Regions from separate parts of the Homo sapiens genome. Here region 2 is linked to region 1. The links come from fine-mapping of genetic effects on plasma protein levels. Region 1 holds a variant in brackets. A gene starts in the other region. All regions are shown on one strand. Distances are between the middles of the regions.

Evidence for each region. PIP is the chance, under the fine-mapping model, that this variant and not a neighbour inherited with it causes the effect. Protein levels are from antibody-based Olink assays in UK Biobank. Linkage for the fine-mapping came from a reference panel and not from the study's own genotypes, which makes the PIPs less certain.
Region 2: it holds the start of AHSP, and the variant in region 1 is fine-mapped to the plasma level of the AHSP protein (UK Biobank, PIP 0.93).

The regions. Positions count from the first base shown.
Region 1 is chr16:159,913-168,202 of GRCh38, reverse strand. HBM (hemoglobin subunit mu) reads right to left here and starts at 2,225. Exons shown (of 3, transcript NM_001003938.4): 1 at 2,114-2,225; 2 at 1,731-1,935; 3 at 1,439-1,623. The coding sequence starts at 2,205. The coding sequence ends at 1,495. It overlaps LOC107983982 (a long non-coding RNA gene), which reads right to left and starts at 7,256. Exons shown (of 3, transcript XR_001752047.1): 1 at 6,775-7,256; 2 at 5,646-5,710; 3 at 5,282-5,567. It also overlaps the pseudogene HBZP1. RefSeq lists an enhancer at 3,918-4,418. The variant G/A (reference allele first, on the strand shown) is at 7,096.
Region 2 is chr16:31,523,757-31,532,077 of GRCh38, reverse strand. AHSP (alpha hemoglobin stabilizing protein) reads right to left here and starts at 4,178. Exons shown (of 3, transcript NM_016633.4): 1 at 4,116-4,178; 2 at 3,864-3,942; 3 at 3,275-3,620. The coding sequence starts at 3,938. The coding sequence ends at 3,387.

The DNA of each region.
Region 1 (8,290 bases):
AGATCACTTGAGGTCAGGAGTTTGAGACCAGCCTGATCAACATGGTGAAACTGTGTCTCTATTAAAAATACAAAAATTAGCCAGGAATGGCGGCCCATGCCTGTAATCCCAGCTACACGGGAGACAGAGGCAGGAGAATCGCTTGAACCCAGGAGGTTGAGGCTGCAGTGAGCCAAAACTGTGCCACTGCACTCCAGCCGGGGTGTCAGAGCAAGGGCCTATCTCAAAAACAAAAACAAAGCAAAAAAAAAAAAAACCCCCAAAAACAAAAAAACAGTTGGGGGATGTAGATAACGTGGGGCCAAGTTCTCCAAACTACCGGGCTGGGGTCCCAGGCAGTGCAGGGCAACAGGTCACTGGCACTGACTGCTGGGGGGAGTTTGGCCGACTCACAGTCAGGGCTCCACTTCCAGCAGCTCTCTTCAGACCTCGTTGCTGACTGCCAGGTCAGACCTGGGTGCCAGGCCTGGTCCAGTGCTCCCCACACAGACCCAGGATGGCCAACCCAGAGCCAACCCTATTCAGGGTTTGGAGACCTCCAAGGTCCCACTCTTTCCTCAGCCCCTATTCTTTGTCTGAAAAGCCTGGGGTGGAGCCCTAAGATTCCCTTCCCAGTCCTGGGGAGGGAGAAGAGGGAACCTGGGGAAGGGAGTGCCTTGGCCTGGGCACCTGCAGAGATTGAGACACGGCAGCTGGGGCTGGGTGGAGGGGTGGGGTGGCAACGACCCTGCAGGCACCCACCCTGTGTTATGATTTCAAAAATTATTTCAAAAATCTCGTGAGTTGGACGTTGTTTTTCTATTCGATAGGTAAAGGCCTGAGAGCTCTGGGACACGCCCAGGGTCGCACAGCTTGTCATTGAGCAGGCTGGAAGACTAAACCTGCTCTGTCTGCCAAATTGTGGCCACTGAGGACTTCCTCCCGACCTCATCCCCAGGGCTGCAGGGTCACAGGGAGGGCTAACCAGGCTAGCGCAGGTTTGCCACTGAGGAAGTGTCCATGGGGGAAGGAAGGGGAAAGGAACAGGTCTGCGGAGCCCTCTGCTCTGGGCCAACGAATTAGGTTGCACATTTGGCTCTGGGACCTCAGTTTCTGCATCTCTCTGCAAAAAGGGCCAGGATTAGCATCTACAGGTCCCAGCAGGAAGTGGGGATGGAGGGAGAATGAATGAATAAATGCGTGAATGGGGAAGTGCTTTGCGAACAGTATGGTTGGAAGCCCGATTCAAGGGTTGAAGTCGAAGGCCACCCTCCCTACCCCCGCCACATCACAGTGCTCCCTCTGCCCCATCGCACTCCTCGCCATGGGAGGACAAACCTCCGGGGGTGGGGCGCATTTGAGAGTTCTAGGAGGCTCCTTTTAGGTCCCTGAGCTTCACTGGCCAACAATAGTGACCTCGCTTTGCTAGCTCCCCAAAGACCACACAGGCAGGGGCAGATGGTTCGGGCCTCTGTTTATTGACAGGCACAGACCAAGGCCTGCGCAGCACAGGGCTCAGCGGTATTTTTCGGTCAGCACCACGGCCACACCAGTCAGGAACTTGTCCCACGCCGCTTGCATTTGCACGGTGAACTCGTCCTGCAGGTGGGAGGCCAGCACGACGTGGAAACACTGGATTAGCAGCTGCAGGAGAAGGGGCCGGTGAGACGGGGTCTGCCCCGCTAGGGACCCCCAGAGCCCCCCCACCCCGGCTGCGCGCTGCACCATTGCCCCGGCCGGAAAGGCCTCACCGGAAAGTTGGCTGGGTCCACGCGCAGCACGAGCGCGTGCAGGTCCGCCAGCGGGCTCAGCGCGGCGCGCAGGTTGTCCACGTGCTGCACCGCCGCGCCCACAGCCGCCAGCATGCGCTGCCCGTGGCTCAGCAGCTGCGTCGCGTCCTGGCAGGCGCTCAGGTGCGGGAAGTAGACCTTGGTGCTGGGGTACACCGTGAAGAGCCTGCAGGACCAGGTCAGTGACCGGGGAGGAGGGCGGCTGCGTGGGGCTTCACTAGCGCCCACACCGCCCAGAGCCCGGGGATCCGCACCCGAAGGACCTTGGATGGCGTTGGCGGCCCACGCGCCCAAAACCCTCATCTCCACCTCCCTGAGCTCCCGGAGACCCCGCCTCTACCGACCTGAGCAGCAGCTCCGCCCCGAATTGCGCCTCGTGGCCCGCAATCAGGTCCCAGACCTGCGCGATTTGGGCGCGCTCCTGGGCGCTGAGCATGGCGCCGCCTGACGTGCTCTGGGGGCCGCGCCCGCCGCCCTGGCCTCCTTATAGAGCCTCCGGGCACCCCGCCCGTCCTTATCGGCCCGAGCGCGGCGGGAACGCGGGGACCCTCGGCCTGCGCCGGGGAACGTAACCAGCCCGGGTTCCCGTCTGTGTGGAGGCCTCGACCTCCGGGATCCCAGGGTTTCTGGCATTGACCCACGCCGTTGCGCGTGGGCACCTTTACTGCAGACTTTAGGGGCATCTGTTTACTCCCCTCGGGTAAAGTTACTGCTCTGCCAGGAGGGAGCACATGGGAGGAACCGGAGAGAGAACACCGGGCAGGAAACCCCCTACTCTCTTAGGAGTCGGGGAGGGACCGGCCTCAGGGACCCCCGTAGCTGCCAGAGTCCCGGGATTCGGACGTCAGGCTTTGTGGAAAAGTTCCCTGAGCCCCGACACGCTTCCAATACGCTTAGTGAAGTGACAATCTTTGTGCGATATGGGAAGCCGGGAGACGCACAAACGCCCGTCCGACTCAAGGACCCCAGGAGACGCCGCGGGCCGGCCCGGGACTGCTCCGCTCCACCCGGGCCGCAGCTCCGGTGCTCAGGGGCTAGAACCTCCCCAAGGCGCCCCCCAAGTGAACCCCAGGCCGCGACGACAGTGGGGACGACCGAGTTCCTGCGAAGCCCCCGGACCCATCACTCAGCTTCTCCCCTCCTTCCCTCCAATACTGAGAACACAGAGCCCAGATCGCTCCGTCCTCATCCATTTATTGGAGTCAGGGCAGGAACTGTGGGAGGGTGAAGGGCAGGGGAGGGGCCGCAGCCTGTCCTGGGGGTCCCGGAGGCGGCGCTCAGCGGTACTTCTCGGTCAGGACAGAGGATACGACCGATAGGAACTTGGCCCAGGCGGCGTGGGCCTCGGCCGTGAAGTCGGCGGGGAAGCGCGCGGCCAGGGTGACCAGCAGGCAGTGGGACAGGAGCTGGGGGCGGGGGCGGCTCAGTGCGGGGGCGGGGCCTAGCCCGGGCCCCGCCCCGCGACCCCACCCCGCCCCGCCCCGCCCCGCGCCCCGCCCCGCGACCCCGCCCCGCGACCCCGCCCCGGCCCGGCCCGCCCCGCCCCGCGCCCCGCCCCGCCCAGCCCCTCCCCGCCCCGCCCCGCCCCGCCGGGCCCCGGCCGCCCCGCCCGCCCCGCCCCGCCCCGCCCCGCCCCGCGACCCCGCCCCGCCCCGCGACCCCACCCCGCCCCGCCCCGCGACCCCGCCCCGCGGCCCCGCCCGCCCCGCGGCCCCGCCCCGCCCCGCCCGCACCGCGCCCCGCGCACCTTGAAGTTGACCGGGTCCACGCGCAGGATGTAGGCGTGCAGCTCGCTCAGCTTGGACAGGGCGCCGCCGATGTCGTCGATGCTCTTCACCGCGTCGCCCACGGCGGCCACCACCTTGGAGCCGTGCGCGCGCAACTGCGCGGACCCCGGGTGCAGGTCGAAGTGCGGGAAGTAGGTCTTGGTCTGCGGGTGGCTGAGGAAGAGCCTGGGACGGGGGGCGGGGGCCGTGAGCTCCCAGCAGCGCGGCCTCCCGCCACGGCCCACGCGCCCTGCGGCCCTCTCCGAGCACCGGGACACATCTGCGACCCCGCAGCAGGCCCCAGCCCCTCCTCGCGGGGCCCGGGTGCCCAGGCAGCTGCCCCTCCCAGGCTGCCCTGGGCTAGAGGCCCCCCAGGCCTCTGCAGCTCCCGGCTGATCGCCCTGCTTCCGACGGGTTCTGTGCAGCCTGGTCCCCAAATCTCCCGCCCTCCGCCTCCAGCACGCCTGGTGCCCCCAGCCCCTCCACCGTCTCCTCTGGCCACAGGACCTCCCTCCCAGCCCCAGACTGGGTTGCCCGCCACCCCTTCTGCAGGCTCATGACCTCCCAGCAGCGTTCCAGGGAAGGAAAAGCTCCCTGGCCCCTCCCAGGGGATCAGATGCTGGGAATTTGAAGCTGGGACAGTGCCCTGATCCCAGATGCTGGGACTTTAGAGGCTGTAGTGCCCTGGCTGCCCTGTAAGGCCCTTCAGGCCTAGAACGAAACCTTTCACCCTCTGCTTGTCAGAACCTGGGCCTGTGCCTGCCCAGGTCTCAGCGAGCCCAGATGGTTGTGCAACTCCTAATCGTTCCCTCCTTACCCTGCCCTCCTCACTGAGAGGGAAGGCTATCTGTCTCCACTGTCCCCTCCCCACAGTCCCCTCCTCACTGTCCCTTCCTCACTCTCCCCTCCCCACTGTGCCCTCCCCATGGTCCCCTCCTCACTGTCCTCTCCCCACAGTCCCCTCCTCACTGTCCCCTCTCCATTGTCCCCTCCTCACTGTCCCCTCCCCATGGTCCCCTCCTCACTGTCCCCTCCCCAAGGTCCCCTCCTCACTGTCTCCTTCCCACGGTCCCCTCCTCACTGTCCCCTCCCCACGGTCCCCTCCTCACTGTCCCCTCCCCACGGTCCCCTCCTCACTGTCCCCTCCCTACGGTCCCCTCCTCACTGTCTCCTCCCCACGGTCCCCTCCTCACTGTCCCCTCCCCACGGTCCCCTCCTCACTGTCCCCTCCCCACTGTCCCCTCCCTATGGTCCCCTCCTCACTGTCCCCACTCCACGGTCCCCTTCCCATGGTCCCCTCCTCACTGTCCCCTCTCCACTGTCCTCTCCCCACTGTCTCCTACTCACTGTCCCCTCCCCACGGTCCCCTCCCCACTGCCCGCTCCCCACTGTCCCCACTCACATACCTGGCCTCCCACCCAGTCCCTCTGGCAGTCCCATCTGACACTCACCTCTCCAGAGTCTCGGTGCCGATGGTGTCGGCCTGCGTGGAGATCTTGGCCCACATGGACACAATGATGGTCCCCTAAGTCTTGGTCAGAGACATGGCGGCAGGGTGGGCGGCTGCACTGGAGTTGGGCCTGCTCAGGACTGGCCTTGGTAGTGCTCAGCCCCCAGGGTCCCCTTATATACAGGGAGCTGGGCCCAGCCAGGCTGTGGCCATTGGTCAGGTGAGGGGAGGGGGCTGCAGGGGTGGTGTTTCTTATCAGATCCAGTGACAAAGGGGCCCTCAGGTGGGACTGGGGGCTGAGGAACCTATCGCTTCTGTCTCCCCTTCTGCCCACCCCTGAGTCACAGCTGGAGCCCCAGCTTCAGGGAGATTGGGGCCCCAATCTGGGCATGAGAGTCCACGTGGTCAGCCCAGCCCGGACTGGCCTCAGGAGTGACTGTCCTTGACCTCCCTGTCCCTGTGATGACAGGGTGACCTAGAGCACATGGGCCCTGGCAGAGGGACGATCCATTCCTCACTTCACTGAAACTTCTCTGGCCCACCTTATGAGCTCCAGTTTGCAAATGAGGAAACCGAGACCCCCTAGAGAGAAAGTGGGACCCAGTGTCACAGGGTGGGAAGGGACAGACCTCTCCCACCTCCGGTGTGCAGCCCCCTCACCTGAATGAGGCTCGGTCTGGGGTTCTCCTCCAGTAGCCTTGTAGGGGACACTCTGAGCCGGGCACCTAGGCAGGAAAGCGTCTTGGGAGGCCGGACTCCTCACAGAAGGTGAGGTCATGCAGGCCTGCAATTCTGCTCACTATGTTCTCATCGCAGCCTGGAGGAGACCCTCCTCCAGCTCTACTGATTTATTTCTTTTTATCCTCTCTGTTTATTAACTCCCCCCTCCTCCGTTAGACAACCATTTCTATGTGCTGAATATATTCCTTTTAGTTAGTACGTGTGCTTGCAAAGGGTATGATTTTATGCATGTATTTTAAATTTATACGAATTATAGGTAGATATAAAAATTTTGTTTGTTAGTTTGTTTCTGAGATGGAGTCTTGCTCTGTCTCCCAGACTGGAGTGTGGTGGCATGATTTTGACCCACTGCAACCTCTGCCTCCTGGGTTCAAGTGATTCTCCTGCTTCAGTCTCCTGAGTAGCTGGGATTACAGGCACACACCACCACGGCCTGGCTAATTTTTGTATTTTTAGTACAGATGGAATTTCACCATGTTGGCCAGGCTGGTGTCGAACTCTTGACCTCAGGTGATCTGCCTGCCTCGGCCTCTGAAAGAGCTGGGATTATGAGCGTGAACCACCGTGCCCGGCCCATGCACATCTTTTTTAAATAGAGGATTTTTTAAAACAAGGGAAAAAAAGGCTGGGCGTGGTGGCTTGCTCATGGGGCCGCACATGGTGGCTCGTGGTTGTGATGAGGTCGCATCACTGCACTCCAGCCTGGGTGACAGAGCGAGGTTCTGCCTCAGAAAAAATAAAAATAAAAATAATAATAATAGAAAGAGAGAAAATGCATCTTCACACACTGATGCTTTTCCGTTGCTGCGTCAGCAAGCGTGCCCCCATCCCCGCTGACAGGTGCAACATCTTCAGCCTGCAGAGCTCCCCTTTGTGAACAAGCTCTAGTTTTTTTCTATTATAAACAACTCCATGAAGAATATCAGTGCTTTGGATCTTTTCCTGGTGATAGACCTCTAGAAGGGGAATTACTAGAAGGAGACTCAAGAGTATTCGTTTTTTAGCTTTTTGAAACAAATTACTTTTCAAGACAATTATATGGACTTACAGTTGCAAAATTAGCTGTTTGAGGCTCAGTGTGGGTGCCCTTCCTGCCCTCGGGCTGTCACCGCTGGCCTGGAGTAAGTTGGAAGTTTAGCACTACACACCATGGGGCAGCTTTCAGACCGCAGGCTGCAGAGGTGAGGGAATCCCACAGGAGACTGACACCCTTTGTTTTGAAAACTCCCTGGAGGGGGTCTCCAGCCAGAGTCAGGGTAGGGGGGGCAGGTGAGGCAGGTGAGGAGGGTATTGAAAGGACGCACAGGACCTTGGGGCCTGCAGTGTACCAGGCCTTGGGGTTGGGTGCATGAGGCAGAGGGATGCGTGC[G/A]ATAGGATGTTAGCAACGGTAAATCAGCCTGGCTTGGAACCGGGTCAGGCGACTCCCCTGAGCCCCCTCTTCCCAAGCAGGGGCGCCTTTGGTCCTCAGAGGCTGGGGCATGGGGTTGCAGGGGCCTGGACGAGAGGGGCCGGGAGATCCTGAGGGCAGCAGATAAGGGCTGTACCACCAGCCCCAAGGCAGGCCCACAGCACCAAGTCTTTTCTCCCTGTAGCTGCAAGCCGTGCCGGGCTCCCTCACAGCCTGTGCCCCACAAGCCGTCCCGGGCACCTCTCACAACCTGTGCCCCACAAGCCGTCCTGGGCACCTCTTGCAGCCTGTGCCCCACAAGCCGTCCTGGGCACCCCTCACAACCTGTGCCCCACAAGCCGTCCCGGGCATCCTCACAGCCTGTGCCCCACAAGCCGTCCCAGGCACCTCTCACAGCCTGTGCCCCACAAGCCGTCCCGGGCACCCTCACAGCCTGTGCCCCACAAGCCGTCCCAGGCACCTCTCACAACCTGTGCCCCACAAGCCATCCCGGGCATCCTCACAACCTGTGCCCCACAAGCCGTCCCGGGCACCTCTCACAACCTGTGCCCCACAAGCCGTCCCAGGCACCCTCACAGCCTGTGCCCCACAAGCCGTCCCGGGCACCTCTCACAACCTGTGCCCCACGAGCTGTCCCGGGCACCCTCACAGCCTGTGCCCCACAAGCCGTCCCGGGCACCCTCACAGCCTGTGCCCCACAAGCCGTCCCGGGCACCTCTTGCAGCCTGTGCCCCACAAGCCGACCCGGGCACCCTCACAGCCTGTGCCCCACAAGCCGTCCCGGGCACGTCTCACAACCTGTGCCCCACAAGCCGTCCCGGGCACCTCTCACAACCTGTGCCCCACAAGCCGACCCGGGCACCTCTCACAACCTGTGCCCCACAAGCCGTCCCAGGCACCCTCACAGCCTGTGCCCCACAAGCCGTCCCAGGCACCTCTCACAACCTGTGTCCCACAAGCCGTCCCGGGCACCTCTCACAACCTGTGCCCCACAAGCCGTCCCGGGCACCTCTGAAACCTGTGCCCCACAAGCCGTCCCGGGCACCTCTCACAACCTGTGCCCCACAAGCCGTCCCGGGCACCCTCACAGCCTGTGCCCCACAAGCCGTCCTGGGCACCTCTCACAGCCTGTGCCCCACAAGCCGTCCAGGGCACC
Region 2 (8,321 bases), 31 Mb before region 1:
TAAGCAGCAGAGTCAGGGTCAGGTAAGGGTCAGATTTATGGTCATGATGAGGGTTATGGTGACATTAAGATTTCCAGGCCAGGGGAGGGTCAAGTTGAGTGCCACTGTAGGGTTAGCTTCAATGTTCGGTTGGGATTAAGGGTGATGCTAAAACTGAAGGCAAAAGTGAGGGTCCGGGTCAAGTACAGAATCAGGGTCAGGGTGAGAACGAGATAGAGTGTGTAAGTGACAGTCAGGATCAGGGTCTGGTGAGTGTCACAGTCAGATGCAAGGTGAGAGTGAGCACCAGGGTAAGGCTCAGGTGTGAAGGAGGGGGTGGTGTCAGAACGAGAGCAAGGTCAGAGTCAAGGTGAGAGTGTATGCTTCAGGGTCAAGAGTCATGGTTAAAGGCCAGGTGCAGTGGCTCACACCTGTAGTCCCAGTGCTTTGGGAGGCTAAGGTGGGAGGCTTGCTTGAGGCCAGGGGTTCAAGACCAGCATGGACAACATAGTGAGACCCCATCTCTACAAAAAATACAAAAAAAAATAGCCAGGCATAGTGGCATGCACCTGTGGTCCCAGCTACTCAGGAAGCTGAGGTAGGAGGATCGCTTGAGCTCTGGAGGTCAAAGTTGCTGTGAGCCATGCTGGCACCACTGCACTACAGCCTGGGTGACAGAGCAAGACCCTGCCTCTTTAAAAAAAAAAAAAGTCATAATTATGATCACTGTCTAGGTCAAGTTGAGGATCAAGGGTCAGGGTCATAGTGAGGGTCAGAGTCAACATCATGCTAAGGGAAGGGTCAGTGAAGGTCAATTTCAGGGTAAGGGTCAGGGTAGGATTCAGGTTGAGGGTCAGAGACAGGGTGAAAATTAGGATCAGGTAAAGTTTAGGGTCCAATTCAGCATCAGGATCAGTATAAGAATGAGAATGAGAGGCAATGTCAGTGTGAGAGTCAGGGTCATTGTGAGGGCAAGGTGTCCATTATGATCAGGGGCAAGATGAAGCTAGAGGTGAGGCTCAAGTTCAGGGTCAGCTCTAGGTCAGGTTCAATATGAGGGTGAGGATAAGGGCAGGGTTATGGCTATAATGTTTTACCATTTATTTACAATCTTATTTCTAGTATTAATTCAGATACTGCTAAGCAAAAGAAGGTTATTCTTACTAATTCTAATTTATTTTCCTTCAGGAACAGTAATGGATTTGGGGCACTCTCTGCTTTAGTTATTTTATTTTTATTATTATGAACCATCAGGTTCATATCACCGTCTCTGAAAAATCAAAATATCCCCAATTTTACTTCTTGTAGATTTATAACCAGTCACTTCGTTGATAGTAATATGAGAGCAGAAAGTGCAGGTAACAGATTTTTCTGTCTTAAAAATATTTTTTGCAGCTTCTCAATTGCACAAGCTTATGGAATGGTCGGAATGGAGTTTCAATGTTGAACTTCCCAGTGAGAATCTTTTCTACCTTACACCTGTAATTGGTCATTTTCCTTTGAGCACCTGAGAAGTGCTTAGCTCAGCAGCTCCCATAGCTGGATAGTTATAAAGGTATGGAAAATTCCTCTTCATGAATTGAGCCAAAGCGGCTTCTAACATTCTTTTCAGCTAAGCTGAAAGACAAATACAGTGGTCCCTCCGTATCTGTGGGTTCCGCATCTGTGGATTCAACCAACCAAGGATGGAAAATATTTGGGGAGAAAAATGGATGGTTGCCTCTGTACTGAACATGTACAGGCTTTTTTTCTTGTCGTTACTCCCTAAATAATACAGTGTAACAACTATTTGCACAGCATTGACGTTGTAGTCGGTATTGTAAGTAATCTAGCCATGATGTGAAGTCCACGAAGAGATGTGCGTGGGTTACATGCAAACATTTCGCCATTCTGCATAAGGCACCGGAGCGTTGTGCTGTGCGCTCTCCTAGCGTCCCCCACTCACTTTCCTCCACCCACACACACCAGGCCAGGTCTCTCTTGCAAAGGTGAGGCTGCCGACTACTGTCCCGCCTGAGCGGGCTCTGGTCCTCACTCACAGACTGAGATTTCCTGAGAGGTGCCGTGGAGAAGGCCCCAGACTCTGCCTGGACCACCGACCCCAACCCAGAGGAGCTCGCCGCCTGCTTCCCTGGGAGGCGCCACTCTCCCAAGCTGGATCTAGGGCCGACCACACCCCAGGGTTGGAAGCACCGCTGGGGACACTGAGCGGGTTCCCTTTCCACCCTGATCCAGGCTGCAGAGACCTACAAAACAACAGTCGGTTCACAAGTCCCAGAGGAAAGCTTGCTGGAGGTTGGAACGAGGAGCAATCCCTCTGGGCCCCAAACTTTTCCCGCGTTAGAGAGAACACCGAAAAGGTCCAGAACTGCGCCCTCCAGCTCCCCGCGCGCACCCTGAGCCGCGTCTGATTGCTGTGCGGCGCCTCCTAGCCGCGCCCCCGCCCCGCGCACCCCCGCCCCCGCTCAGCACCCCGGGAACCCCCTCCCCCCGCGCGCCCCCGCCCCGCGCACCCTCCCCCGGAGGGCCCTCCCCTCTGCGCGTGGAGGCTTTTCCTGGAGACTGCGCCGCGGGTCTAACACCTTCATTTCGTTTTTAAAAAGCTCTTGAGTCTGGCCCGTCCCTGGTTCCGCCCAGAGCCCTAAAATAGAGGCTTCGAGTCTGGAGGTCTGGGAGAAAGGGAGCTAGACCGGGAATTGATCTGAGAAGCTTGGGGTGGGGGGAAGGCGGATTCCTCTGCTTCCCAATCCTGGCATCTGCGCCCAGGGATGTTGGAGCCAAAGGGAAGTGGCTTCCCCTCCTGAAATATAAGGGGCGCGCTAAAGGGTTCCCAGGATCCCTTCCAACTCTAAATTCCTGCGATGCCTGGGGCTCCGGGGAGGTATTTTGCGGTAGTCAGAGTCCGAAGATCCTAGAATGTAGTTTGAGCTGGGGCTAAGGACAGGGGATTGAAAAGTCGAGGCGGTGGACCTGGCGCAGGATGAACAAGACTGGGAGACTTCCAACAGTTTCCTCCTCGACAAGCAGGTCACAGGACAATGTCTGGAGGACTTCTATCCCCCTTTCTTGTTTCTGCCACCCCCTCCCCTGCAGCTCTGCACTCTCTCTAGTCCCGCCTTCCTGGCCCTCGTTCAGCCTGTTTTAGTTTAGAATCGCTGCCCGGTGGTCACTCAAGGCTGCTAACCTCTGCTGTAAGGAATTAAGCTTCCAAGAGCATATCTAAGAAGGAGGGCGGAAGGAAAGGGACCGAGTGCCTCCACATGTCAGGACAGACCATGAAAGAGAAGCCAGGAAGTCCAACAAAACCAGCACTGGTCTTTATTGAGGTGTCAGGGTAGAGTGGCAGGAGCACAGCCTAAGGACATGAAGGTCAGAGTTTCTCAGAGAGGAGGGGCTGGGTCCCTGAGCTAGGAGGAGGGCGGTGGGTGACTCGGGAGCTCATGAGACTTCAGGAAGTCCCTGTACTTGGCCAGGAAAGGGTTGGCCAGAGTGTTCAGCTCTTGCCGAAGCTCCTGCAGAGCCTTGTCTCGCTCTTGGGGCTCCCCTGTCACCTGCTGCCTGTAATAGTTGATGTAGAAGTTCATCCAGTCCTCCACCACAGTCACCATGTCTTCTTCAGAGACGAGAGGATCATTGAAGACCTGGGGGGTTGCGGAGAGGCAGTTGGCAAGGGAGAATGTGGTCAGCAATGGGATTCGGGAATACTAGAATAGTGCCACAGCACCAACTCTCACATTCTCTTTCCTCTGCATTGTATCCCGTGTCTCTCGTTGTTTCCATCAACTCCACCATTACTTCACCAGCTCCAATTATCCTCTTCCTCCACTTCCCCGGCACCCCCCAGTCTCCAGGCCAGTCCTTTGAAATGGAAAGCTTGGACTCACCTGCTGATTCAGCAGAACGCTGAACTCCTTCAATCCTGCGGAAATGAGATCCTTATTGGCCTTAAGAAGAGCCATCTGCCTGGGTAGAGAAAAGGGTAGAATTTACATATCTGTTTCCCTCCTCACTGGGTATTTCCCCCAACCCACTTCCTCCCCTTAAAAATCCCTCCTGCCCTGCAGGGCTATCTCCTTTCCAAAACCTTTCACATCCTGCCCTGCTCTGAGGTCACGATTTTCCCAGGTTGGGCTCACCTTCAGGTCTAACAGGCTGTATATGTCTCACCCACACTCTTGAGGGTGCGTGAATCTCTCTGTGCCAAGCTATAGATGTAGGCAAGGAGTCAAGTGTCAGCCTAAGATAGAAACGCCCTGCATCTAGGTCCTGAAGGAGGGTGATAGGTCATTCTAGGGAGGAGAAGAAGGGAGAGGCTTCCCTGAAGGTAGAAAGATAACAAGGCCAAAAAAAAAAAAAAAAAAGATAAATGAGGAAACCCAGGAAATGCAAGAAGGCAAGAGCCAAACCAGGGGCATGTTCCTGCTTTTTGCCCCATATTTCAGTATCCAGGCTCGAAATGCTATGGAAATTGACGTTTACTGAGCCCTATTACATGACAGAGGCTTTTGTGTAATCACAACGATGTGATCGCAATGATTCTCCCAATTCGGAGATGATGTATTAATAGCAGCTTGCATTACATTTATTCATTTGTGCCAAGCACTGTTTCAAACATGTACAAAATATTTATCCTATAAAATTTCTTTTTAGACACATTTTGCAGATAAGCCACCTGTAAGCGTGTGGACTGAACTCCACCACGCTGTGCTCCATAAGAATGGAGATAAATAGCCGGGCGTGGTGGCGGGCACCTGTAGTCTCAGCTACTTGGGAGGCTGAGGCACGAAAATCGCTTGAACCCAGGAGGCAGAGGTTGCAGTGAGCCAAGATCACACCACAGCACTCCAGCCTGGGTGACAGGGCGAGACTCCATCTCAAAAGAAAAAAAAGAATGGAGATGGATTTGTCTTGTTTACTACCCTGTCAACAGGTACCCAATAAAGCAGAAATACTCTTTTTCCTCTTTTTAAATATTTTTCCAGATATTTTCCATTTTCAGTAGATGTTTCTCAAATTTCAAAATCACTATATACTAATTGAAATAATTAAAACAATACAAAAACGTACACTGAAAAACTGAATCATTTTTGCCCCCTCCAAAGTAACCAGCATTAAACATTGTATATTTCCTGTCACTTTTTTTTTCCATTCAAAACCCAACATTCATAGGTGCCTATACACTCATAAAGCTTTGTTGATTTGCCTTTTTGGTTGTAGCATTTTTTAATCAATATACAGCAAAACTGACTTCCTTTTGGTGTACAGTATATTAAATTTTTTTTTTTTGAGAGGGAGTCTCCCTCTGTGGCCCAGGCTGGAGTGCAGTGATGCGATCTCAGCTCACTGCAAACTTTACCTCCCAGGTTCAGGCGATTCTCCTGCCTCAGCCTCCCAAGTAGCTGGGATTACAGGCGTGCATCACCACGCCTAGCTAATTTTTGTATTTTAGTAGAGATGGGGTTTCACCATGTTGGCCAGGCTAGTCTCGAACTCCTGACCTCAAGTGATCGACCCACCTTGGCCTCCCAAAGTGCTGGGATTACAGGTGTGAGCTACCGCATCTGGCCTAGTTTATTAATTTTATAACAGATTTGTGTAACTACAAACGCAGTTAAGATACAGAATGTTTCTGTCACCCAAAAACCACTCCTTCACGTTACCCTTTTGTAGCCACCCCTACCCTCACCCATAACTTCTGGCAACCACTTATCTGTTCATCACTACAGTTAAGCCTTTTTCAGGATGTCATATAAATGGAATCATACAGTATGTAACCTTTGAGACTGACTTTTTTTGGTCAGCATGATGTTCTTGAGCTCCATCCAAGTTGTCACAAGTGTCAGTGGACACATTGCATTGTATGGATGCACTGTAGTTTGTTCATTCAGCCACGGAAGGACATCTGGATTGTTTGTACTTTGGGGCAAGTGTGAATAGAGTTGCTATAAACATTTGTGTACAGGTTTCCATGTGAACATGTTTTCATTTATATAGGGTGGAAAGTATGTGTTACCGGCCAGGCACGGTGGCTCCCATCTGTGATCCCAGCACTTTGGGAGGTCAAGGCAGGCAGATCACTTGAGGTCAGGAGTTCGAGACCATCCTGGCTAACATGGCGAAACCCCCTCTCTACTAAAAATACAAAAATTAGCCAGACATGGTGGCATGCACCTGTAATCCCAGCTACTTGGGAGGCTGAGGCAGGAGAATCGCTTGAACCCAGGAGGAAGAGGCCGCAGTGAGCGAAGATCACGCCACTGCACTCCAGCCTGGGTGACAGAGTGAGACCTTGTCTCTAAATAAATAAATAAATAAATAAATTTATTATCTTACAGACTTAGAGGTCAGAAATCTAAAATGAGACTCACTAGGCTAAAATTAAGTTGTCCTCTAGGCTGTGTTCCCCTTGGAATCTCTGAAAAAGAGTTCTTTTTCTTTCCTCTTCTAGTCTATAGAAGAACCCACATTCTTTCACTCCTGGTCCCTTTCCAGCTTGAAAGCCAGCAATGACCACCAGGTCCAGTCTTTCTCACATCACACCAGGCCGACTGTCTCCTACATCCTTTCACTTCTAAATAATTTTTCTTAAATATTTCTTTAAAAATAATTCATTACCAGATGGGAAAGATCAAGATCCCAATGCCCTTCCAAAGCTCATTAAGGAAAAGTTTCAGGAAGGTCTCTGGTACATGCCAGGAAACTCAAAAGAGATGGTGCTGCCTCAGATGGCTTAGAAGACCATGCTGCCAAGAACACATCTAACATTGAAGCCACGCACAGTGGCTCATGCCTGTAAGAGGCAGAGACGGCAGGATCGTCTGAGCCCAAGGGTTCAAGACCAGCCTGGGCAACATAGTGAGACCCCATCTTTTAAAAAAAAAAGGAAAAAAAAATCTAATTTTGTTCATTCCTCAAAATTTCCTGGCACAGTTGGAACTAATCTAACTACCTGGACTATAATGAATTGCAGAGTAAAATTAGTGAGATGTAGTGAAGAATTGAAGTCTCCTCCCTCAACCAGTGTCTTGAGAATAGCAGGGGAAACTGATTCCCTTTCAGCATGCTAGATACATCAATAAAGGAAGGGTTGAACGTGAGATTACAAAAACACATTTGCTAAAGAATTGTAGAAAACCAGGATCACAAACTCATTCTGCAACAGAAAAATAAAGCACTGCTGATTTACAGAGGAATTCACTTCTGGTGATGTCTCTTAAAAATTAAGAAACCTAATAGGAACTCCCTCATCGAGGCAGGCTCTGCTTCAGCTGAACAAGAAATTAGCCAGAGGGAGGAAAAGAGAACTGTTTGGACTTCCAGGAAGGCCTCTCCTTCCACCGAGAGGACTGCAATGAAGACCTCAATCATCAGGGAAAGAAGAGCCTTCTCCAGAAATCTGATTGGAATTGATGACCCAAATCCCACTCAGTCAACGCAAAACCCTGACTTGCTCGTGGCAGTACCAGGTTGGAGTCAGGGCAAAAAGGTTGTAGATTTCATGTTACATAGTTTGGCCCATGGTTTCCCCTGTGAACATTTTGGGAGGGAGGTGAGAGCTGAACTGGTTAGGTGGAACCTTGGTCTTATTTCCTGGAGATGTGACGTTTTTGGGGCCTGTTCCTGCTGTGACTGGCACAGCAATCAGGACCTGCAGCCTCCAGAGGGTCCCAGGGCTGGGGAGGAGACATGAGCCTTGCGCATCTGAAGGTCAGCGTCTTGGCAGCATGGCTACTCGCAAGAGGGAGGAGCTCACTCTGGATCCATTCGAGAGAGACTTGTCCCTTCCCCCTCTTCTGCCCCACCCCTGGGCCACTTTCCTGTCCCCTGACTCCCACTTGACTTTGTTTTCACTAATTGGAGCTTAGCTCAGAAAATGGAGGGGGCTGAAGTTATAGGTTATGGGAGGGGAAATTTAAGTTTGGGAAGACAGAGGCTCCCTTGATTGGCACTATCAGCCACATCTGCAGCCACATGAGGGTCTCAATGCTGGGGCAGGGGGCAGTGAGACTGGCCAGGAACCTGAGTCCCCCGGGGACTCGCAGACACCTGCCCCACACATCCTGAGTGTGCTGAGGGAGACCCAGCCGAGATCAGCTGTGCTCCTGGGTAGGTGAGAGCAGGCCCTGCAGGGGGCCCAGTCCACCCAGGAAGGATGCCCAGAGTGGCTGAGTGTGCACCTCCCTCTTCTGCCTCTCCTTTTCCGCTGCAAGCAAGACCGGGGGTCAGGAGTTACAGGTGCCAGAGTCCAGAACGGGCCCCTCCTCCCCAGCAATGTGGGTGGGGTCAGGGGCTCAGGTCAAATTCAAGGAAAATCTTCAAGCCACATGGTGTAGAGCCAAAGC